Homo sapiens: one gene and its partners. The protein of the gene in region 1 purifies or fractionates together with the protein of each later gene. This does not show direct contact. Each region holds a gene or a part of one and is shown in the gene's direction. Other genes may lie near its edges. The genes, in order: MYH11, SVIL, TBC1D31, INF2, PEDS1, C4BPA and ACTR3.

Region 1 (3,500 bases):
GTTTTTGTCTCTGGTCCAAAATCTTTAGCCAATGGCTTGGCAGTAAAATCCTGAGGGAAGCTGTTGACCAGGTGAGGTGATGTGCAAATCCTATACTCTCTGGGCTCTGGGATATTTAATTTACTATTTATTTATTTATTTTCAAGACAGAGTTTTGCTCTTGTCGCCCAGGCTGGAGTGCAGTGATGGGATCTCAGCTCACTGCACCCTCCACCTCCTGGGTTCAAGCGATTCTCCTTCCTCAGCCTCCTGAGTAGCTGGTATTACAGGCGCCCACCACCACACCTGGCTATTTTTTGTATTTTTAGTAGAGACGGGGTTTCACCATGTTGGCCAGGCTGGTCTTGAACTACTGACCTCAGGTTATCCGCCTGCCTCGGCCTCCCGAAGTACTGGGATTACAGGCATCAGCCACCATGCCCGGCCTAATTTACTTTTTATTAATGCTGAAGCAGAGAGGGCAAGATCTTTTGCCCCTGAGTTCTTCTGGGAAAAATGAAACTGATGGTAAAACAAACTAAAGCAACCTGACATTCTCAGTTGGTCCAGTTTCAGCCCTTTGACTGGGAGTCACAGACGGGTCCCATAAAATGGTAGAGCTGGGCCAGCCTACCATTGATTTATTTTCCCTAAATGAAAAATACAAGGCCCAGAGAGGGCAAGTGACTTGTCCAGAGTCACCCAGCAGGTTTGGGGCAAAGCTGAGACTCGTTACTTGACATCCTAAGGTCTTCCAGAGGCTAATGATTAGCTTGTTTGTGCTCAAAAAATGAAGCAGCCTGGGCGCGGTGGCTCATGCTTGTAATCCTAGCACTTTGGGAGGCTGAGGCAGGCAGATCGCTTGAGCTCAGGAGTTTGAGACCAGCCTGGGCCACAAAGTGAGACCCCTGTCTCTACAAAAAAATGCAAGAATTAAAAAATTAGCTGGGTGTTCTGGTGCGTGCCTGTGATCCCAGCTACTTGGGAGGCTGAGGTGGGAGAATGGCTTGAGCCTGGGAGGCAGAGTTTGCAGAAAGCAGAGATCGCGCCACTTCACTCTAGCCTGGGCAACAGAGCCAGACCCTGTCTCAAAAAAAAAGAATGAAGCAGTTGTTGGTCAGGACAGGACTGTAAACAAGGCTGACACACTCAGATGTGTCAAACATCGCTAATGCCAAAGGTGACAGAGTCATTTGTTTTCATCCAAACATTCGAGAAAGTTGGACGAGGTGACTCACGCCTGTCATCCTAGAGCTTTGGGAAGCCAAGGCAGGAGGATCATTTGAGATCAGGAGTTTGAGACCAGCCTAGGCAAAATAGCAAGACCCCCATCTCTACAAAAAATAAGCCGGGCATAGTGGCCCACACCTGAGGTGGGAGGATCCCTTGAGCCCATGAGTTTGAGCCTGCAGTAAGCTATGATTGCACCACTGCACTCCACCCTGGGCATATAGTGAGACCCTTCCCCCAACCAAAAACATTGAGAGCAGCTCTTGATGAGTGAACTGTACTTCGTGGTCAGCAGTTCTGGGTAGTAATTTCAGAGATGTCCTTTCAGCCCTTGGAGCTGATGCAGGACCTTAAACATGAGCGATGGTGGAGGAGGGAGGGTTGGGAAGGTGCATCAAGGTAGATGAAGAGTGTCCCTGGGGTTGGGCCAACTGGCGGTCCGTCTCTGGTCCAGTGTGTTCACCTTGCCCCCGTCTGATCTTCTGCAGTTGGTATTCCGAGTTGAGTTTGACTAAGTGAGAGCTGCTCTCAGCTTTAACTGCCTTTCCCAAGACAGCCCTTGTTTTTATTCTAAAGCTGTGGTTCTCAACTGGAAGCAGTTTTGCCACCCCAGGGGACATCTAGCAGTGTCTGGAGACATTTTTGATTGTCATGAGTGGAGGAAGGGGTGCTACTGGCATCAGGTGGGCAGAGACCAGGGATGCTGCGGAACATCCCACAATGCACGGAAGAGCTCCCCTCACGACACAGAATGACGCAGCCCAAGAGTCACAGTGCAGAGTTTGTGGCCAGCTGCGGTGGCTCACGCCTGTAATCCCAGCACTTTGGGGGGCCAAGGTGGGAGGATTGCTTGAGGCCTGGAGTTCAAGACCAGCCTGGCCAATATGGTGAAACCTCATCTCTACTAAAAATACAAAAATTAGCCAGGCATGGTAGCGCATGCCTGTAGTCCCAGCTACTTGGGAGGCTGAGGCACGAGAATCACTTGAACCCAGAAACGTGGAGGTTGCAGTGAGCTGAGATTGCGTCACTGCACTCCAGCCTGGGTAACAGAGCGAGACTCTGTGTCAAAAAAAAAAAAAAAAAAAAAAGACTTAGCAACTATTATTACTAGTATTAGTATTATTAATTTGTCAGGCTCACTGAATTTTCTCAAAAATTTGGCAAATTTTTAGGAAAACATTCTCAAAACATTTGGCAAATCTGTGGCTAAATGTTGTTTTGGGGACCCAAGGCTCGTAGGAGCAAAACAGCTTTCAGGTTTCCGGATCTGCCAGAGACTCAAGTGTCCTGTTGTGTGTTTTGTGTCTCAATGAGGGAAAGGGGAATATGTAGCACCTTCCAGATGGATTTGACCTTGACTGCGCCACTGTTTGAAGAGCTTCTCAACCTCCGCAGCTCCACCCCAGCCCAGATATTTCAGGGAATTAGGGTTCCAAGGGGCATGCTATGGAAAACACCATTCTAGCATGAGTCGAAGCTTCTCATCCCCCATCTTGCTGTCTTTTGACCAAAGCAGATTTTGCACGTCGTAACTGTCAGAGACATCAAAGCCAGAGGGAATCCAGCCTGCTCCAAGCTCTCCTTTTTTGTACAGAGACTGAATCTTTGCACTTGATCTTGTTTGTGTTTTTAAGTCTGAGGTTAGACAGGGTCCCAGGCAATGGAGGCGTGCGTGTCCTTTTATTTTTCTGTTGTAGCTTTTGCTATTTTTTCTGACTTTTAAGGCAACTCATCCACATGGCAATTAGGAAGAGCCCACTTAGGGCTGGGCACAGCGGCTCATGCCTGTAATCCCAGCACTTTGGGAGACCGAGGCAGGCAGATCACTTGAGGTCAGGAGTTCAAGACCTCAGCCTGGACAACATGGTGAAACCCCGTCTCTACAAAGAATACAGGAAAATAGCTGGGCATGGTGGCAGGTGCCTGTGGTCCCAACTATTTGGGAGGCTGGGGTGGGAGGATCACTTGAGCCTGGGAGGCGGAGGTTGCCGTGAGCTGAGGTCATGCCACTGCACTCCAGCCTGGGCGACAGAGCAAGACCCTGTCTCAGAAAAAAAAAAAAAAAAAAAAGAAGTCCACTTTACTTGTCATAGTGCTTAGAACAAATGAAACACTCTCCTAGCCCTCTTGGGATGTAATTGGCTACCATCTGCACAAACTCTTCATTATTGCACAAGAATATCAATATACTTAATGCTACTGAACTGTGTTTAAGTGGCCGAGGTGGTGAATGTTAGCTGTATTTTACCACAATTAAAGATAAGAGGGAAGGAAAATGAAGTGTACTT
Region 2 (3,500 bases), on another chromosome or scaffold:
AGATACAGTCATTGAATAGAAAAACCATATTGATATTTTTAGGTTTTTAAGATCTCACATACTTTAAATATTTCAAAATTTTAAGTAAATACTCTTTCATACATTCTGAAACATTATATCTAATTTATCTCAGCCAAAAATTTAAGACATATACATGTTGCAGTTGCACACCTGTTACTCCAAAACAAACAAACCGCTCCAGCCAAAACCCAAATGGGAAAGCACTTGATTTTCAGTAGCTTAAAATATGTTGAATTAAGAGGTAGGTTATGAAAGTGAAAATGACATCTGAATGTTTTAGTGGTTTTGGATATAAATTTTCTTAGGAATTTTTTGTTTGAGTTAAGCTGATAGTTTAGTTTACTGTGTGCTATGTTGGTTGCAAAATTCAGCTACATTTGTTTATTTTGCAATTAATTCAATTTGTTTGCAAATATTGCATCAGACATCTAAACCAGCTAATAACTCTATAGGTTTGAGCCAGGTTAGAAAAAAAGGCTTGGCTGTACCGTTAAGAAGCAGCTAGCTCTCTAAATTGTGCTGATAGTCTTAATTTCCCCCGGATGTTCATTTTAGCCACACACACATAACCATTTGGATTTATGATTTCATACATTTTTTATTGGAAGTGCTGAATATTTTAAAATTCTGTGATTAGATAAAATTGGTCATTGTGCTTCAGAATAGGGTGACTCAGCTTCATGGGATGTACTTTACCCAACACAGGATTCTCCCATTTGAGATGGAATTTATTAATTTGGATTTGTATCAGGTCTTCACTCCAGAGGCATCAGAGAGCTTTCAGGCAGCCAACTATTCTTAAATATTTCAAAAGGAAGTTGCAGTGGGCACGTGGCGTGGAGAACACAGCAGAGCAAAGTGATGTAGGGGCCATAACAGCCAACATGCTTTGTTTCCTTCATTCATTCACCTACCTCCCCAAAAGTCCAAAGAAGTGTTTTCCCTGCTCTCGGTGCAGGAGGAAGATTTTATCTGGAAATTGAAGGTGTCAATGGCCAGAGAAAGAAGGAGGAACATTGATTTTCATGAATAACCAGCTGTGTGACCTTGGGTAAATTCTTAACCTCTCTGAGCCTCAGTGGCCTCATTCATTCAAACAAGGGTTGGACTAGAGGATTTTTAAGACCCCTTTTACGTATTGGGATTCTGTAATCCAAAGGTTTCAGAGATCGAGAATAATCTGTCTTCCTTGGAAAGGCAACACCTTGTATCTGGAAGGTAGTAGTTCAAGGTGGGAGAGCAGGAACAAATTAGAAATGTGTTGAGAAAGAAGATCTTTTTTAAAAAGTCCTCTCACTGTCCTTGCTTGTTTCTGTTGAAATACACAGACTGTTTCTCCCTTCTCTGATGGCTTCATAATCATTCTTTGTCTTTGATTCTTATTATTTATTTTATTTTATTTTATTTTATTTTCATTTTATTTTTTTGAGATGGAGTCTCGCTCAGTCTCCCAGGCTGGAGCTCAGTGGCGCAATCTCGGCTCACTGCAAGCTCCGCCTCCCGGGTTCACACCATTCTCCTGCCTCAGCCTCCTGACTAGCTGGAACTACAGGCGCCCGCCACCACGCCCAGCTAACTTTTTGTATTTTTAGTAGAGACGGGGTTTCACCGTATTAGCCAGGATGGTCTTGATCTCCTGACCTCGTGATCCACCCGCCTCCGCTTCCCAACGTGCTAGGATTACAGGCCTGAGCCACCGCGCCCAGCCTGATTCTTTATTTTGGAAAGTTTCTGACACCTCTTTAAATTAAGCTCTCATAGTTTCTTTTGTGTTCATTTAAGTATGTCTATTTTCTTTTCTCTAACCTAATTTATTTTTATCTTCTTTTGGACATTTGTTTTTTCTCCTGATGTGAAACCCCAAAGTGGTCACAGCAGACTCGCTCAGGGATGCCTGAGACCGTCAGAATCTTCGTGTTCACAACAAGATGGGATGTGCTTGGCTTTCGTTTCCCTTTGAGTTTATTAGTTCACTGCCAGGTATTCATTTATTCTCAACAGTTGTTTTCTGAGCACTTACTGTGTGTCAGGGACTGGTATAGGTGTTGGGGAAAGAGCGGTGGGAAACAAAATTCCTGCCCTCGTAGCGTTTAAGTTCCAATGGAATGGTACTAAAGTACCCTGAGCGATTCTCTTGATCTTCAGCCCTACATCTGTTGTTCAAGTGCTTAGGTTAATAACAAAATGTAAAATACCTACCATGGTTTCACATAGTTATGTGTGTCTGATGTAGGGGCCATAACCGTGTGTGTGTGCCTTGAGAAAACTTAAGATCTACTTCTTGGCAAATTTTAAATATATAATACATTGTTAGCAACTATAGTCACCATGCTATACCTTAGGTTTCCAGAACTTACTCGTAACTACAAGTTTGCATCCTTTGACCAATGTCTTTCCAATTTCTCCTACCTCCAGCCCCTGGTTACCACCTTTCCATTTTGTTTCTGTGAGTTCAGCTTTTATATCAAAACATCATGCTGCACACCTTGAGTATATACAATTTGCATTTGTGAATTATACCTCAAAGCTGAAAAAAGACCCCAAAAAACCCGGCATGGTTCCTAACCAAAGGAGACACTTGTAAGGCTTTGTATCCTCCTACAGTTTGCATTTTGTATCTTCTGAAATTCTCTCTTCCCCTAGAATTCATACTGATAAAGCTTATACGCATTTCAAAATATATGTTTGAGGCTGGGCGTGGTGGCTCATGCCTGTAGTCCCAGCACTTTGGGAGGCCAAGGCGGGTGGATCACGAGATCAGGAGATCGAGACCATCCTGGATAACATGGTGAAACCTCGTCTCTACTAAAAATACAAAAAATTATCGGGCATGGTGGTGGGCACCTGTAGTCCCAGCTACTCGGGAGGCTGAGGCAGGAGAATGGCGTGAACCCAGGAGGCAGAGCTTGCAGTGAGCAGAGATCGCGCCGCTGCACTCCAGCCTGGGCAACAGAGTGAGACTCCGTCTCAAAAAAAAGGAAAAAAAATATATATATATGTATACTTGAGGCAAGTACAAGTCAAGTACCCATCTCTCTCTATTTTTAAAATTCATGCTTTCTCTGCTATCATAACATTCGGTCTATAAAACGTTGATTTCATTACCAAGGCAAAGGTTGATGTTGATATCAAGCAGGATGTTACAGAAATAAATCATTGGATCCACTTTACTTCTTTCTTACTTTCAGACTTTGTCTCAGAACTTTATTAAACTTAGCAAAAGTTAAAAAGAAAGGTAGTCTTAACTGAAGACTTTGAGATGATTTTAGAAGGAGTTTAGTAACATTGGATGAACTATTGTGTGTCACTAATCATGTCAGAGAATGTAACTTACAACTGAAACTTTGGAGTCTGTAATCTTTCTGTGTGTTTTTTTTTTCTTTTTAAGACGATTCACCTGGTCACTTCTATCACTGGGTGAAGCTGATTGTATATAAGCTAGATCTGCCTTCTGCCTACCTTTATGTTAGTACTATTTT
Region 3 (3,500 bases), on another chromosome or scaffold:
AATTCTTGTTTTAATTCTACCTCATAATTGCTTTGTCAGGTAAATCTCGATTTAAACACCAAGTTTTCTTACAGTTTTTTTTTCACCATCGGAATAACCTGGATATAAATGTTGTGATTAGACAAGTTTATCATCTCATGGAGACCACGCCTACTGACATTCATCCAGACAGCATGCTTAATGTTTTTGTTGCACTGACAAAAGGGCAGTATCCAGTATTTAATCAATATCCAAAGTTTATTGTGGACTATCAAACACAGGAACGAGAAAGAATAAGGAATGATGAATTGGATTACTTAAGAGAGAGGTAATTATGGAATAGTTTTTCTTTTTCTGATACAATGAAATATGTTATAAACATAAGAAAGTTTTAATGAAAAATACATTTGGCTGAGCGCGGTGGCTCACGCCTATAGTCCCAGCACTTTGGGAGGCCAAGGCAGGTAGATCACAAGGTCAGGAGTTCGAGACCAGCCTGGCCAACATGGTGAAACCCCGTCTCTACTAAAGATACAAAAAATTAGCCAGGCATGGTGGCACGCCCCTGTAGTCCCAGCTACTCAGGAAGCTGAGGCAGGAGAATCACTTGAACCCAGGAGGAGGAGGTTGCAGTGAGCGGAGATCATGCCATTGCACTCCAGCCTGGGCGACAGAGTGAGACTTCATCTCAAAAAAAAAAAAATGCATTTAAATTATGAGTATTTGTGTAAAATCAGAGTTTGAAGGCTAGAAATATTAAAGATAGTTAATTCTTGCATATGGAAATAAAATAGATTATACATTAATCGGTATACATTTTGTGTTTTGATGATTCTTAGCTTTCTTCTTTGTGTTTTCATAATAATATTACCTACTTAAGGCAGACAGTTGAAGATATGCAAGCTAAAGTCGACCAGCAAAGAGTTGAAGATGAAGCTTGGTACCAGAAACAGGAGCTGCTTCGTAAAGCTGAAGAAACAAGAAGAGAAATGCTCTTACAAGAGGAGGAGAAAATGATACAACAAAGACAGAGGTATGTGTTATCACTTTAAAAAAAAATCTGGACATATAAGTTAGTTGAATAATTTTTATGTTCTTTCATTTTTTCATTTTAGAAACAACATTATATATAGGATTACCCAGCTGTAGCATTTCTATAAAGCAACTATTAAGTTAATAAAAAGAATCTTTATATACCACTTTTCAAAAAAAATTGCTATGTAGTAAAATGTAATTCTGAAGCTATGCTGAATATAATATAGCTTTGCATGGATTAATGTTCCTTGAAGGACATTATTTAGAAACATTATTCTATAGTGGGCAGAAATGCTTTGTAATAGAATGCTAGGTACATCACCTTTAGTAGAGTATAATTTTTTTAATTGTGTTTTAAACATACCTGTGTGACCTGACAGTTGTAACATAGAATGATTATGTCATTACCCATTTAACACTTTGGAGGACAGGGGAATGAGTATTAAATGCGTATTCAAAAGTACGTTAGCTGGGTGTGGTGCCACATACCTATAGTCCCAGCTACTAGGTAGGATCACTTGAGCCCAGGAGGTCAAGGCCAGCCTGGGCAACATAGTGAGACCCTGTCTCTTAAAAAATAAAAAGAAAAAACTTAAAAATAAATACATAAAAGTATGTTAATAAGGTAAAATGTGTAAATTAAGTAAAGTAATGGGATAAACATTGAGACTAAGCCCAATAGTTGGGAAACTCACTTCTGTGTTTATTGATTCCTATTCTTAGATGGAACTTTATGTAACAGATTTATAGTGTGGGTTAAAAGGAATTACTGAACTGAGCCAGTGAGCTTTCTACTAAAATTCTTAAAGCATAAGTATACATCATCTTTGGTAACGGTGGAGCAGTTCTCGCATTCTTCTTTCAAATAAAGGATATCAATTGTATTGAAATGATCAGCATGGCAGACCTGTTATGAAAAAACTAAATCATATTAGGAATTGCTGTATTTGTTCCACTTGATGTATTTTGTATTTAAGGCTAGCTGCTGTGAAAAGAGAGCTGAAAGTAAAGGAAATGCACTTACAAGATGCTGCAAGAAGGCGTTTTCTGAAGCTTCAGCAAGATCAACAGGAAATGGAACTAAGAAGACTGGATGATGAAATTGGGAGAAAGGTTTATTATTCTTAACTTAGTTCTCATACATCATCTCCATTTACTCTCACTTAAATGTAATGAACACCTTCAAATTAAATAATATTCTTAGAGTCCACCATGAATACTAAATAGCCGCTTTAATTTTATTTACTTTTCCCCTCAGCTTTCTCATTCTCTTTTGTATTTCATGAATGGCTAAATATTTAAGAAATGCCAGGAAAATTAGTCAAGTGTCCTTGGTGACTATTTCTCTAAAACTAGAAATATCAGTATCAGTTAGCCATTAAGTTATTTTTTCTTTTCTTTTCTTTTTTTTTTTTTTTTGAGACAGAGTCTTGCTCTGTTGCCCAGGCTGGAGTGCAGTGGCGTGACCTCAGCTCAGTGCAACCTCCGCCTCCCGGGTTCAAGTGATTCTCCTGCCTCAGCCTCCCAAGTAGCTGGGATTACAGGTGCACGCCACCACACCCAGCTAATTTTTGTATTTTTCTTAGAGACGGGATTTCATCATGTTGGCTAGGCTGATCTCAAACTCGTGACCTCAGGTGATCTGCCCACCTTGGCCTCCCAAAGTGCTGGGGTTACAGGCGTGAGCCACCAAGCCCGGCAGTTAATTTTTAATTAGGGGACATATTCTTTTTTCATATAAAAATTATCTGTGGCCAGTATAAAAATAATTTCCAGTACAAAACATACAGAATTAAAAATTGACCTTCTCCATTAGTTCTCATGTCATCCCCAGAGAAACACTATTAAAAAATGGTTAATTGGCTGGGTGCGGTGGCTCATGCCCGTAATCCCAGCACTTTGGGAGGCCGAGGCAGGCAGATCACCTGAGGTCAGGAGTTCGGAACCAGCCTGGCCAACATGGTGAAACCCTGTCTCTACTAAAAATACAAGAATTAGCTGGGCATGGTGGCAGGCGCTTGTAATCCCAGCTACGCAGGAGGCTGAGGCAGGAGAATTGCTTGACCCTGGGAGGTGGATGCTGCAGTGAGCCGAGATCATGCCACTGCACTCCAGCCTGAGCGACAGAGTGAGACTCAGTCTCAAAAAAAAAAAAAAAAAAAAAAAGGTTAATTACATAGACTTTCAGGTATGTTCTATAGATAGAGGAGTAATTATAGTCATGTTTTCCTATATTTATACAAAAATGGGATTATTCTCATTATACATTGTTTTTGTAACCTGCTTTTTAAAATTTCATATGCTGAATATCTTTTCATATTTGTTATATGTGTATCTATTTCTCTTTTTGTGGTTGTATAATATTCCATTGAATTAATAGCTTATTTAATCCTTTGCTATTGGACATTTCGGTTATTTGCAGTGTTTTGCAAATTACAAAACCATGCTACATTGTAAAAGTCTTTGAGTACTTGCACACATACTTT
Region 4 (3,500 bases), on another chromosome or scaffold:
GTGACCAAGAGGGCCGGGCCTGGGAGGGTGGCTTAAAACCACAGTGCACCGGGGGCTCCGGGCTCTCCGTTCTACAGTGCCCAGACCAGGACCCCCTGCAGGGAGGAGGGGCATCCCAAGGACAGCCTCTCAGGATGCTCCTGGCAGCCTGGTGCTGGAGGTGCAGAAGAAGAAACTGAGGCCCAGGCAGGATGAGTGACTGGGCCAAGGTCTGCTGGTGAGGGCCCGGGCTGGGGACATGCAGATCAGAACCCTGGCTTACACCTGTCAGGCTGCCTCCTGGAAGGAGCCCACTGGCCCCCTGGGGCAGTTGGACAGGTGGAGGGCTGAGGGGCGGTGCGGGGAGTAGGGGCTGGACTGCCGGAAACACCAGGCTTGGTCGTGGACCAGGCTGGGGAGTGGGCCTGAGACCTCAAGGGCAGGTGCTCCAGGACACTCTCCCAAGGCAGGAGGGGAGGAATAGAGCCTCCTGGGGAGGCAGGCGCTTGGGTGCTCGACCCCGCTCAGCTCCCGTGACCTCAAATGCCCTTCAGCCTGGGGTCCCCTGACTTACCGGGTTGGGCAGCACTTGAAGCAAAGCCATGTGGGACCTCCAGTCACAGCCCAGCCGTGCCCAGGTGTGGGACTGTGGGCACAGACCCAGCTTCTCTAGGACCCAGCCGCCTCCAGTTCCCCACCTGTTGTGGGAGGTATAAAGTGCCTGCCTTGGAGGTGGTGGGAAGCCGAGGGCCAGGGTGGAGAGTGCTGGGCCGGGGTGGAGGCTCAGAGCGTGTCCCTGCCAGGCCCGGCCCCCTAGCTCCCTCCCCGAGGCTCCACGCTGCTGTTCTCAGACGCTAAATATAAGATCTAAGCCATACATGGTTGCAGGAGGGCCTGGGATGCCCCTGACCTTCGAGGCCAGTTCCCAGGGTCTGTGGTTGGGGACAGCGGCTGGGGGGATGTGGTGGCGTGGAGCTGATGTCAGAGGTGCAACCCGCCTGTCCTGCTGTTCTGTTTTGGGGAAAGGCACGTGTTGGGGCTCTTCTGGGCTGGGCCTGTTACCTACCCGGGTGTTCCCAGGGCTGGAGTCAGACCTGTTGCGACTGAATCCTGGTAAAACCCTGAGTGCCAAGGGTTTCCGTCTTCCTGTTGGTGTGGGCCCCCTACCCACATGCAGACGGGCAGACTGAGGCCCAGGGGAGACCTGGGAGTCGCCCCTCCTCCCCAGCCACGCTGCTGACGCTGTGGGCACCCCAGGCATGCCTGAGGTTTGGAATCTCCCTGTCCATATTGTCCACTGGGGCGGGGGAAGTGCCCTGGGGTGAGATAAGGCAGCCTCAGATGCGCCGTTTTGTCGCATCATTACCGTGGGTAATGTTCCAGCCAGGGGAGCCTCCCGCTCCCCCGAGTCCTCCCCAAGCTCATCCGGTCCCGTCACTCTGCAGGGGCCGTGCTGGCCTCGTGCTGCAGGTTTCTGAGCCGGCTCCTCCCCTCCCAGCCCTGAGCCTCGGGGTCCTCATGCGCGCAGTAGGGCCCTTCCTGCCTGCCGCCTCGGTTGCTGAAATTCGGTCAGGGATGGGTACAGGGAAGCCTAAGATATAGTGGGGGACACAGTGCTACCCCTAACCCTCAGCATGGCACGTGAGCAGGAATTGCAGCAGAGAAACTGAGACCGAGGGAAGTGGCCCCGCCTGCGCTGGTGGCCAGGAGGACAGCCCCCATCCCCTCCCCGCTGACGGCTCCCTGCCCTCTGCCTGCAGCTCGGCAAGATGTCGGTGAAGGAGGGCGCACAGCGCAAGTGGGCAGCGCTGAAGGAGAAGCTGGGGCCACAGGATTCGGACCCCACGGAGGCCAACCTGGAGAGCGCGGACCCCGAGCTGTGCATCCGGCTGCTCCAGATGCCCTCTGTGGTCAACTACTCCGGCCTGCGCAAGCGCCTGGAGGGCAGCGACGGCGGCTGGATGGTGCAGTTCCTGGAGCAGAGCGGCCTGGACCTGCTGCTGGAGGCGCTGGCGCGGCTGTCGGGCCGCGGCGTTGCACGTATCTCCGACGCCCTGCTGCAGCTCACCTGCGTCAGCTGCGTGCGCGCCGTCATGAACTCGCGGCAGGGCATCGAGTACATCCTCAGCAACCAGGGCTACGTGCGCCAGCTCTCCCAGGGTGAGCCGCAGTGTGGGAGGGCCGCCCAGGCGGACGCTGGGGACCTGGTATGAGGCTTCAGGCCCAAAAGGCCCCGGGAGGCCTGGGGAACCACCAGGAGGAAGCGCAGCCAGGCAGGCAAGGAGGGCTTCCTGGAGGAGGACTGGCTTCCTGGGCTCAGGAAAAACATCCACATTCACTCCGAGTCTGAGGCTTCCAGGTCACCCCAGTCCCCGCACTGCTGCACCAGCGGTCCCCCTGTGCCCCTCTCTGTTGTGTGGCTCTGCCCCACCCTTCCTCCCCGTCCTGTGCTGGCTCCCACCCTCTGGGCTCTCTGCCCTCGTCCACACCTCGGCGGCAGGAGTCACTGAGTCAGAGATGCGAATCCACCCGAGTGGCTCCCTACATACACCTGCCTAGCTCCAAGCCCTTCAGCCTCAGCCCAGACAGAGCCCTTGAGGTCTGGCCCACACCTACTGATGGTGTCACCCTCCACCTCCCAGCGCCTTCCCTAGCGCCTCCCTCCCCGCCCTGTCCCCTACTCCAGCACCCAGGGGACTCGTTCCCGGCAGGCAGGCAGGCCCTTGGTCTCTGCCTCTGCTCGTGTTTTCTGCCTTTGCGTCCTCCAAGGTCCTGCGCCGCTAAGCCTTTAAGCCCCAGCTCACTTTCCTGTCCTCCAGGAAGTCTCCCCAGGCTGTGCCCAAAGTTAGTCCCGGTCCCTTGAGAGAAACCCTTGCTGTGCCACTCCATGGCTGCTGCCAGGTCCTACCGATGCTTGGGGACGAGCTAGGGTGGGCAGTGATGGGCGGGGCTGGGCCCATGGGGGCGGCAGTTACCTGTGCAGGCAAGCAAGCCAGAGGCGCCTCGTTTCTGTCGGACCCAGGGGACAGAGGCAGGTGTAGGGGCCAGCCATTCTCAGCCCGTCTCCCCAGCCTGGGCCTGGCAGGGCCCCTCTATGGAGTCTTTTGTGAATTGTTCTCAGCAGGGTCAGATGAGAGACACCCCCAGAACTTTCACAGCTCCAGATGGGGTGGGAGGCAGGGGTTCATAGGAATGAGGTTGTGTCTGCCATAAACACAGTAAGTGCTGCATTGGGAGAAAAGCTGGGCCCAGAGCCAGTGACAGGATGGGGCAGCTGCCTCCAAGCCCTTCCCTGCAGGGTCTGGCCCTGTGGTCCAGGAGCAGGGCCAGGACACCGAGGAGTGGGGCACCTCGTTGGGTCCCAGCCCACTGCTGTGGGCCACAGACAAGTGCCCGGCACCCCCTGGCGTCTGCCTGCCAGGCCCAGAGCCCCAGCCCTGAGCCCAGCTGCACAGGCATGGGAAGGGGTGCATTGGCCCTGCTGAGCCTGCCCACTCCACCCTGGCAGCCCTGGACACATC
Region 5 (3,500 bases), on another chromosome or scaffold:
GGAGGTGGTGATGCGTTGTCAAATTCTGGAGGAGCTGTGAAAGGTGAGCTGCCAGAATGTGCTTCCAGGTTGGCTGTGGAGGTGAGAGAGAATTAGCTTGACTCCAAGGTTTCTCTCTTGAGAGATGGAAGGGATGAAGCTGTCATTCACAGAGATGGAGAGAGGTCATCGGCAGAGCAGGCCTGAGGGAGATGCTTGAGATGGCCGCTGTTGAGCTAAGGAGAGGTGTTGAGCAGGAAACTGGAAATCTAGGTCTGGAGGCAGGGAGAGGCAGCTGGAAATAGCAATCTGGGGGTCCGGCCGGGCATGGTGGTTCACACCTGTAATCCCAGCACTTTGGGACGGTGAAACCCTGTCTCCACTAAAAATACAAAAATCAGCTGGGCATGGTGGTAGGCGCCTATAATCCCAGCTACTGGGGAGGCTGAGACAGGAGAAATTGATTGAACACGGGAGGCAGAGGTTGCAGTGAGCCAAGATCGCCCCATTGCACTCTAGCCTGGGCGACAGAGTGAGACTTCCTCTGGAAAAAAAAAAAAAAAAAGAAAGAAATCCGGGGGTCATCTGTGTCAAGATGAAGCTCCTTATCTCCTAGGCTGGCTGAGCACCCCCAGGGGCTGAGTCTCCCGTGTTTCCAGGCTGGGGAGGAGGAAGAGCCAGCAAGGGAGGCTGGGATGGCGCTGCCAGGGAGATGGGGGGAGAACCAGGGAGGTCGGGGGAGAACCAGGGAGGGCTTGCAGGGGCCAAGAGGAGAATGTGTTTCCAGGAGTCTTGGGGGTCGACTGGGAACAGCCACCGAGTGGACCAGCAAGGTGGCCAGTAAAGGGACCTTTGGATTTAGCCACGTGGAGGTCATCAGCCACTGTGACACGCACATCGTTGTCGTGAGTGAGTGGGTGAACAAGTGAAGGCCGTAGGAGCCCTGAGCTTTTGTTCCACGTGGAGAAGGGGGAGGAAGTGTTTGGGTTGTGAGTTGGCCCTTAAAGGAGCAGAGTCCTTCGTGGACCTTGGGAGAAGCCTTCCGGGCAGAGGGCACAGTGAGTCCAGAGGTCAGGGATGAGGTCAGAGAAGTCCCAGGCTCGGGTCGTGGCCCGTCCTGTGGCTGGAAGTGGAGTCTGGATCTGACTGAGCTGGAAGGCGGTAGAGACAGGACTGGGACCCAGGACCGAAACCCATGGATTTGCCCTCAGTGCATTCACTTGGCTCCTCAGCCACGCCTTCCATCTCCACGCCAGGCCTTTGAGGTGGGCAGGGAGGGGTGAGGAAGTCCCAGCTGGGTGACCTCTGGGGAAATGGAAGCCCGCACGGGCCCAGCGACTACCTCAAGTTCCCCCGTGAGTCAGGGTAGCCTGGGGTGAGCCGTCTCCCATCCCTCTCCTTGTCCCAGTGTTCTGCGGGGAAGGGTGGTAACCAAGCCGAAGCTGCCCCCAGGGGGAGCCGGCTGCCAGCTGCCACCACCCCAAAGCTGGGACAAAGAGGCTTCTGTGTGCCTGTCTGCCACCCCTGCCCCCATTAAAGCAGCCTCAGACAGCAGCCTGGAGTCACTGCCACCGGCAGAGGCCGCAAGATCACGGAGCCAGGGGGAGGGCTCCTGGTCTCCTAAGATGATTCCTGACTTCTGTCCAAAGCAGACATCCCTCCCTGCTGGGCAGCGTGCAGGCGCCAGGCCTTGACCATTGGACAGATGGCAAGACTGAGGCTCAGCAGAGAGCTCACAGGAGCTGCGTTGGGGGGATGCTTGCTGTGTCGTGGGACCCACCGGGCCCTTTACCCAGCAGCCCATTTTATTAACTTCTCATAGTTAAGGGAGGTAAATGTCCCCATTCTCCATACCTGGGTGCGAAGTCTCCCTAACCCTAACCCTAAGGTTGCATCATCCTGAATGACTCTAGCGAGTCTCTGGCTACTCACCAGCAGCCCTGCCTTGCCCCTGCCACCGTGTGACCTTGGGGAGTTCTTACCCTCCTCTGGAAGGTCAGGATGGGGTGGGGCCTGTTACTGTGGACATGAAGTGAGATTGTCCACTTTTTGAAAAACAGACTTTATTTTTTAGAACAAGTTTTCAACTTACAGAAGGATGGGGCAGATAGTACAGAGAGTCCCCATATGCCTGGGGCACGCAGTTTCCTCCATTATTCACATCCTAAATCTTACATTAGCGGGGCACATTTGTTACAGTGTGTGCCAGTGTTGATACATTATCATGAGCTGGAGTCCATGGCTTATTCAGATTGCCTTAGTTCTTCCCTAATGTCCTTCTTCTGTTCCTGGATCCCATCCAGGGTATCACATGGCCTTTAGTTGTCATGTCCCTTTAGGCTCCTCTTGTCCAGTTTTTTTTGTTTGTTTGTTTTTTGAGACGGAGTCTCACTCTTGCCAGGCTGGAGTGCAGTGGCGCAATCTCGGCCCACTGCAACCTCCGCCTCCCAGGTTCAAGCGATTCTTCTGCCTCAGCCTCCCGAGTAGCTGGGACTACAAGCGCGCGCCAGCACGCCCGGCTAATTTTTGCGTTTTTAGTAGAGATGGAATTTCACCATGTTGGCCAGGATGGTCTCAATCTCCGGACCTTGTGATCCACCCTCCTCGGCCTTCTAAAGTGCTGGGATTATAGGAGTGAGCCACCGCGCCTGGCTGACCTTGACGGTTTTGAGGAGTGCTAGTCAGGTGTGTTGTAGGCTGCCCCTCTGTTGGTATCTATCTGATGTTTTTCTCATGATTAGACTGGGGTTACGGGTTATGAGGAGGAAGAGTTCAGAGGTGAAGTGCCATTTTCATCACATCATAGCAAAAGTACAGACTGTCAACATGACTTATCACTGTGATGACTCTGATCCCATGACTAAGGTAGCAGATGTCAGAGTTCTCCACAGTTAAGTTACCCTCGGCTGGGTGCGGTGGCTCACGCCTGTCATCCCAGCACTTTGGGAGGCACTTTAGGATTTGTGAGTGGGTCGCTTGAGCTCAGGAGTTCACTGGTCAGCCTGGACAACATGGTGAGACCCTTGTCTCTACAGCTGTAGTCCCAGCTCCTCACGAGTCTGAGGTGGGAGGGTCGCTTGAGCATGGGAGCTCAAGGCTGTAGTGAGCTGTGAATGGCACCGCCACACTCCAGTCTGGGCCACAGTGGGAGAGTCTGTCTCAAAAAAACAACAAACAAAAGTTACTCTGCTCCCCCCACCCCGCCTTTTTTTTTGAGATGAAGTCTTCCTCTGTCACCCAGGCTGGAGTGCAGTGACTCGATCACGACTCACTGGAGCCTCAACCTCCCAGGCTCAAGCAGTCCTCCCACTTCAGCCTCCAGTAGGACCACAGGCACATGCCACCACACCTGGCGAATTTTGTTATTTTATATACAGACAGGGTTTCGCTGTGTTGCCCAGGCTGGTACTGAACTCCAGGACTCAAGCAATCCTCCCACCGTGGCCTCCCAAAGTGCTGGGATTATAGGCGTGAGCCAATGCGCCCAGCCTTCCTCCCCTCTTTTTTTTTTTTTTTTTTTT
Region 6 (3,240 bases), on another chromosome or scaffold:
TGCAAAGGACATGAACTCATTCTTTTTTGTGGCTGCATAGTATTCCATGGTGTATATGTGCCACAGTTTCTTAATCCAGTCTATCATTGATGGACATTTGGGTTGGTTCCAAGTCTTTGCTATTGTGAATAGTGCTGCAATAAACATACGTGTGCATGTGTCTTTATCATAGAATGATTTATAATCCTTTGGGTATATGCCCAGTAATGGGATTGCTGGGTCAAATGGTAATTCTAGTTCTAGATCCTTGAGAAATTGCCACACTGTTTTCCACAATGGTTGAACTAATTTACACTCCACCAACAGTGTAAAAGCATTCCTATTTTTCCACAACCTCTCCAGCATCTGTTGTTTCCTGACTTTTTAATGATCACCATCCTAACTGGTGTGAGATGTTATCTCATTGTGGTTTTGATTTGCATTTCTCTAATGACCAGTGATGATGAGTATTTTTTCATAGGTCTGTTGGCTGCATAAATGTCTGCAAGAAGGAAATTTTTATACTTAGAATCTTGCAGCAATCAAAACTGTGAGTGACAGTTACCTCGTTAGTTGGGATTCTGGGGTCACATACCTTCTTTTAGAAATATCCTGTCATGGAAACAACATGCTGGAGAGGATGTGGAGAAATAGGAACACTTTTACACTGTTGGTGGGAGTGTAAATTAGTTCAACCATTGTGGAAGACAGTGTGGCGATTCCTCAAGGATCTAGAACTAAAATACGATTTGACCCAGCAATCCCATTACTGGGTATATATGCAAAGGATTATAAATCATTCTACTATAAAGACACATGCACATGTATGTTTATTGCAGCACTATTCACAGTAGCAAAGACTTGAGACCAACCCAAATGCCCATCAATGATAGACTGGATAAAGAAAATGTGGCACATATACACCATGGAATACTGTGCAGCCATAAAAAAGAATGAGTTCATGTCCTTTTCAGGGACATGGATGAAGCTGGAAACCATTATTCTCAGCAAACTAATGCAGGAACAGAAAACCAAACACCACATGTTCTCACTCATAGGTGGGAGCTGAAAAATGAGAACACATGGACACAGGGAGGGGAACATCACACACTGGGGCCTGTCAGGGGGTGGGGGGCAAGGGGAGGGATAGCATTAGGAGAAATACCTAATGTAGATGATGGGTTGATGGGTGCAGTAAACCACCATGGCACATGCATACCTATGTAACAAACCTGTAGATTCTGCACATGTATCCCAGAACTTAAAGTATAATAAAAAAAGAAATATGTTGTCATATTATATGAAAATGTTATTACTTTGAGCAAGTGTCTTAATGTATCTCAGCTGTCTCTTAGATAAAATGGGAATAATAACAGTGCTCATTTCATAGGGCTGCCAGGAGACTTAAATGATAGCAACATAAAGTGCCTAGCAGAAGTCTGATAGGTAGTCATACTCAATAAAATGCTAATATGAATGTTTTCAAATGAAGAGAAAGATAGAACAATTAGCAGAACTAAATACAGTTCATTCTTATTATCCGAGACTGTTATCATGTCCTTCTTCATAGATTTACAGATTTCTTAAAAATATGTTTCCATTACAGCTCTGTGTCGGAAACCAGAATTAGTGAATGGAAGGTTGTCTGTGGATAAGGATCAGTATGTTGAGCCTGAAAATGTCACCATCCAATGTGATTCTGGCTATGGTGTGGTTGGTCCCCAAAGTATCACTTGCTCTGGGAACAGAACCTGGTACCCAGAGGTGCCCAAGTGTGAGTGGGTAAGTGGCACAATTCAAGGAAGTTCTGTGCTGTCGACCCCTAAAAATGGTGGCATCCCCCAGAGCTCTGTACCACTCAACAATGGTGAAATCTGACTTGTCAGGATTCATTTCTGAGCCACTCCCACTCAAAGAAACTCTTTTTGTCTTGAAGCATTCTGGTAAGTTAGGGGTGGCAAGTTCTCCTGTTCTCACTTGAGAACAGGAAAAACTGAGCCCTTACAGAGCAGGGTTTCATAGACCCAGTAGTACTGATTTCTAGCCTAACTTTTGCTAAGCTATATAATATATTGTTGTTCCATTTCTGGATGGTCAGCAAAAACAGCCTCTGTTACCATGGGGGCCTTCTGGACAGCTGTCTCAGAACAGATCCATGTTCCCCTGGGGAAGACTGTGGTGGGACCCAAGTGATTTCTTGTTTTCCCAGCCTCAACCACCAGTCTGAGGTTGGTCTTGGTTCAATCCTGTAGTCCTTCCACTGTCAGGATCCACCCTCCTTTATGATTAGAAGAGAAGCTTCTCAATCACACCCACCACTTATATCTTTTAGGAGACCCCCGAAGGCTGTGAACAAGTGCTCACAGGCAAAAGACTCATGCAGTGTCTCCCAAACCCAGAGGATGTGAAAATGGCCCTGGAGGTATATAAGCTGTCTCTGGAAATTGAACAACTGGAACTACAGAGAGACAGCGCAAGACAATCCACTTTGGATAAAGAACTATAATTTTTCTCAAAAGAAGGAGGAAAAGGTGTCTTGCTGGCTTGCCTCTTGCAATTCAATACAGATCAGTTTAGCAAATCTACTGTCAATTTGGCAGTGATATTCATCATAATAAATATCTAGAAATGATAATTTGCTAAAGTTTAGTGCTTTGAGATTGTGAAATTATTAATCATCCTCTGTGTGGCTCATGTTTTTGCTTTTCAACACACAAAGCACAAATTTTTTTTCGATTAAAAATGTATGTATAAAAAACTATTTTGTCTTTGTGGTCATTTAGGACTCTGTGAAATAAGCGTCCTTAAAAAACCCATAATATAAAGTTAATACATTAATACATTTGTTTTACTGTTTGGGCCACAAATAATAGGTACTTGGGTTTTCTTTTTTTTTTTTTTTTTTTTGAGACAGACTCTCACTCCGTTGCCCAGGTTGGACTGCAGTGGCACAATCTTGGCTCACTGCAACCTCCACCTCCCAGGTTCACACAATTCTCCTGCCTTAGCCTCCTGAGTAGCTGGGATTACAGGTGTGTGCCATCATGCCCAGCTAATTTTTGTATTTTTAGTAGAGACGGGGTTTCACCACTTTGGCCAGGTTGGTCTCGAACTCCTGACCTCAAGTGATCTGCCCACCTTGGCCTCCCAAAGTGCTGGGATTACCGGTGTGAGCCACCATGCCTGGCCATACTTGGGTTCTTATCGTGGACAGACTGCCTTTACTCCACAGTTTCATGTGTGCACAGCACTCATGTCCTC
Region 7 (3,500 bases), on another chromosome or scaffold:
CTATGTTGGGCCAGGCTGGTCTCAAACTCTTGGGCTCAAGTGATCCTTCCACCTCAGCCTCCCAAAGAGCGCTGAGTTTACAGGTGTGAGCTGCTGCGCCTGGCTGAAGCTTATGTTTAAATTTATATATATATATTTAAGATAGAAGAGTCCATCAATACTTGGAGAAGAACAAAGCAAATTCCTTTAAATTGTATCTCAAAATAATAGGAAACTTTGTATATATGTGTTTGTAGTATTTTAAAAATTGGAAGTAATTTAAATTTAATTGGAAGTCATTTGAATTTAATTTTTTTTTTTTTTTTAGCTTGCTAGACATTATTTTAGAGTGACCATTTTATACTATGTTTTAAAGTTTATCTGTAGGGAAAGTTCTGTTAAAACTGGTAATTTAGTCATCAGAAGGTCCTTGTTTGTTCTGTTTAAGTATTTAAAAACATTAAGGTAAAAGTTAAGCTTCATTGCATAGAAAGTATGATGTTTTACACTGAATAAAGGGAATTATTCTAAGAATCCTGTCCCCAAATTAAAATGTCTTTAAAGCCCCCTAAAAAGGTGTTCTAGTGTTCTAATACCATTAACCTAGGAAGTATTGGTGCTTTGTTCTGGTAGTGCATGCAATATTAAAATGAAGGAGCTTTTATCTGAATTATTGAATAACTGTACAACTTTGGATTTAAAACCATTTCCAACATAAGAGGTGAAAGTTATTTTTTTCCTCAATTTTAGTCTTCTTCAATTGGGCCATATAACCTAGTTGAGTTTGTGACTTTGCCTTGAGAAATGAGGTAACACAGCATGGAACAGTCTATCTTTTCCAGACCTTGAATGAGGAAGGCAAATGATCTAGACATTTCTTAGAACTAGACGAAAAATAGTCATAGCATGACTAGGAGTAGTTTTATCTGTAGTTAGGCGAATGCCGCTTCTTTACATTATTGGTGCAATGAAAGTATGGGAAAGTCTCAACAGAACAGACTGGACATTTGAGAACCTTCCATTTTTCAAAATTTCAGAATCCTCGCAGCAGGTGTGTGAGACAAGGATTGGGGACAGGAGTTAATTGCTCTTTTGGAGTTCCGATAAAGATTTATAGCTGATTTTAAGTCATGGCTGCTAGAATTTCTAAGCTTTCATGCCATGAATGGACTAATAATAAACATTTTAGACTTAACATCTATTTTAAAGCATCACTCTTAAAGTTTATTTCAATATACCTTCAAGATGGTAGATTTTTGACCCTTATAAAAATACATATTTTTTGTTTTCAGCCTGAGTTCTACCAAGTATGCCACACCAAAAAGGATTATGAAGAAATTGGACCTAGCATTTGTCGTCACAATCCAGTGTTTGGAGTCATGTCGTAAAATTGGCTTCATAGTTATTGGGGTTAGGGAGGTGGGGAAGAGATAATCTTTCTGATTACCTGTTTTGTCTGGATGGCTGGTTTTGAGGTTTTAAACCTGACTTGAAATAGTAACACCAAACATGATTATACAGGAATATTTTAATAAGTGTATCACCATGCAGATGTAGAAGAGAGCGAAAGTGATTGTGTTTTTCTTTAGATTGAATATTTGAATCTTATGTGTAACAAAAAGAAGTGGGTTTTAGTTCTTTCTGTGCCCTGATATTTTGTATATTAATGAATTATCCAAGATTCGATGGGATTTATCAGTGTGTAGATAGCTCTATAATGCTTGAATTGTACACTTCTAAGTGTGCAGTGCAAGAGCTTGTTTATATTTCATACTTTTTATACTTTGAGGAAAAAAAGTCAAAGAAAAATTGTATTTGAGGGAAAAAACCATGACCAAGTAAAGGATAAATTCAAAAAATAGCCTCATGAGACTTGGCATACACACTCGTGGGATTCCAGTTATTATGGAGTGCTTCCATCCCTCTCCACCCCTTCCCCCCAAAAGGTTTTCTTTGCAAGTGCTTTTGGAACTAAGAGCTAGTATCTTGGATTAACTGATGCCTGCTAGTGCTTTCTGATTACTCGCATTCTGTTTCTTGCTTTAAAAGAAGAGTAAAGACAAGAGTGTTGGACCAGTATTGCAGTTCTGTAGTGTCATTTCTTATAAAAAACAAAACAACAACAATAATTTATCAAAATTGGCATATTTAAAGCCTAACATTCTAATAAAGGCACAAATTTCTTTTTAATACTTGTTTCAGCCTCTTTAATCTCTTTATAAGTTAACTAATAAATCTATTTTCTTCAGACTTCTGCAATAGTTCTTTAAAATCACAACAGTTAGCAAGCTGACTTTTGTAATGTGCTCAATACAAATACTTGTGAACTTTTAATATGTTGAGTGCTTTCATTTTGATAACTGGATCTCCATTTGATATTTTCATTTGTATAACTCATTTGCAGTCTGAAAATTTTTTTTAGTGCCAGTCCCTGAACATATCATTGAAAGTTAATTTTCTTTGCATTTTAAAATATCTGGATTATGAAGAAAAAGTGATGAAAATAAATTAAAACTGAATTACCTTTTCTAATGTTTTTTTTTTTTAAGTAATGTAATTCTATTTTGTTTTTATGTATGTGATATCTGTTTCTGTTGAGATTTGGGAGTTATTGAAATCTCTGTAATGTGTATGGTAGAAAATTTCTTGTGACCTTAAAATTTTACCAGTTATTTATAGAAAGAGAAAATGGGAAATGTTTTATAGGCTTTTTACTAGCAGTATCAGTGAACACTTGAACTCCATTATTCATGAAAATAACACGTTAGGATTGGAATACGTCTATTCAAAAGTGAAAGAATATAAAGTGTTTAGTTTTTTGTTTTTACTCTAAAGATAGAATTGGGGAGTAAACTTCAGTTTTTGTTTAGAGTGGATCTGAATATTTAAAATCCTATAATAATTTTTGTGAATCTTCATTCTTTGAGTATGGGATTGTAAAAGACAAACTATATCCTACAGTAGTATCATCATCAGTATCAAAGGTCTCCTTTTTTTACTTGGAAAAGTAATTCACAAACATTATAAAAATACTATTCAAACAGTACCAAAGAGTAGATTAGCAAAAGTAAGTTTTTTTCCCTAGCCTGTCTCATTTTTCCATCATTACACAGACTACTTGGAATGTCTTAGATGTCCTTGTATTGTAATTTTCTGTGTAGGTAGAAATAAATGTAGCTTTCTTATTTTACACAAATAGGAACTTACTGTATATACTGTTCTGCACTTTGCTTTTATTAAAGATCTTTTGATAAAGAACTATATTGATAAGCAGTAAAGATGTCATGCTCCTGGCCCAATAAAATATTGTTAGCATTGTCATAAATATGTCTTTTCCACCGGCGATGGTTGGGTAGTTAAGTGAATAAGCTAGAAAGACATGTTTATAAAGCTATTTGATGACAATCTCAGGCATATTTATACAGAGATGTTCTTAACTGTTTGCTACAAAAACATGAAGATCAAAAACTTTCTTGAAGCTTACGCTTAACTTATTTGGGGAAACAAAACTCCAGCCCTTC

The links.
Region 2: the proteins of MYH11 (region 1) and SVIL purify together in Homo sapiens (affinity purification with mass spectrometry; one large-scale study listed by BioGRID and IntAct). This does not show direct contact.
Region 3: the proteins of MYH11 (region 1) and TBC1D31 purify together in Homo sapiens (affinity purification with mass spectrometry, with the first as the bait; one large-scale study listed by BioGRID). This does not show direct contact.
Region 4: the proteins of MYH11 (region 1) and INF2 purify together in Homo sapiens (affinity purification with mass spectrometry; one large-scale study listed by BioGRID and IntAct). This does not show direct contact.
Region 5: the proteins of MYH11 (region 1) and PEDS1 purify together in Homo sapiens (affinity purification with mass spectrometry, with the first as the bait; one large-scale study listed by BioGRID). This does not show direct contact.
Region 6: the proteins of MYH11 (region 1) and C4BPA purify together in Homo sapiens (affinity purification with mass spectrometry; one large-scale study listed by BioGRID and IntAct). This does not show direct contact.
Region 7: the proteins of MYH11 (region 1) and ACTR3 purify together in Homo sapiens (affinity purification with mass spectrometry; one large-scale study listed by BioGRID and IntAct). This does not show direct contact.

Annotation. Positions count from the first base shown.
Region 1 is NC_000016.10:15,847,029-15,850,528, reverse strand, and holds part of MYH11 (myosin-11), read left to right. Parts: intron 1-3,500. UniProt on the Homo sapiens protein: Muscle contraction.
Region 2 is NC_000010.11:29,624,972-29,628,471, reverse strand, and holds part of SVIL (supervillin), read left to right. Parts: intron 1-3,500.
Region 3 is NC_000008.11:123,128,207-123,131,706, forward strand, and holds part of TBC1D31 (TBC1 domain family member 31), read left to right. Parts: intron 1-39; coding exon of another isoform or gene 40-74; coding exon 75-307; intron 308-859; coding exon 860-1,012; intron 1,013-1,991; coding exon 1,992-2,127; intron 2,128-3,500. UniProt on the Homo sapiens protein: Molecular adapter which is involved in cilium biogenesis. Part of a functional complex including OFD1 a centriolar protein involved in cilium assembly.
Region 4 is NC_000014.9:104,699,618-104,703,117, forward strand, and holds part of INF2 (inverted formin-2), read left to right. Parts: intron 1-1,739; 5' UTR 1,740-1,748; coding exon 1,749-2,139; intron 2,140-3,487; coding exon 3,488-3,500.
Region 5 is NC_000020.11:50,136,724-50,140,223, reverse strand, and holds part of PEDS1 (plasmanylethanolamine desaturase 1), read left to right. Parts: intron 1-3,500. UniProt on the Homo sapiens protein: Plasmanylethanolamine desaturase involved in plasmalogen biogenesis in the endoplasmic reticulum membrane.
Region 6 is NC_000001.11:207,142,233-207,145,472, forward strand, and holds the end of C4BPA (C4b-binding protein alpha chain precursor), read left to right. Parts: intron 1-1,585; coding exon 1,586-1,761; intron 1,762-2,311; coding exon 2,312-2,485; 3' UTR 2,486-2,740; downstream 2,741-3,240. UniProt on the Homo sapiens protein: Controls the classical pathway of complement activation. It binds as a cofactor to C3b/C4b inactivator (C3bINA), which then hydrolyzes the complement fragment C4b.
Region 7 is NC_000002.12:113,956,089-113,959,588, forward strand, and holds part of ACTR3 (actin-related protein 3), read left to right. Parts: intron 1-1,271; coding exon 1,272-1,367; 3' UTR 1,368-3,500. UniProt on the Homo sapiens protein: ATP-binding component of the Arp2/3 complex, a multiprotein complex that mediates actin polymerization upon stimulation by nucleation-promoting factor (NPF).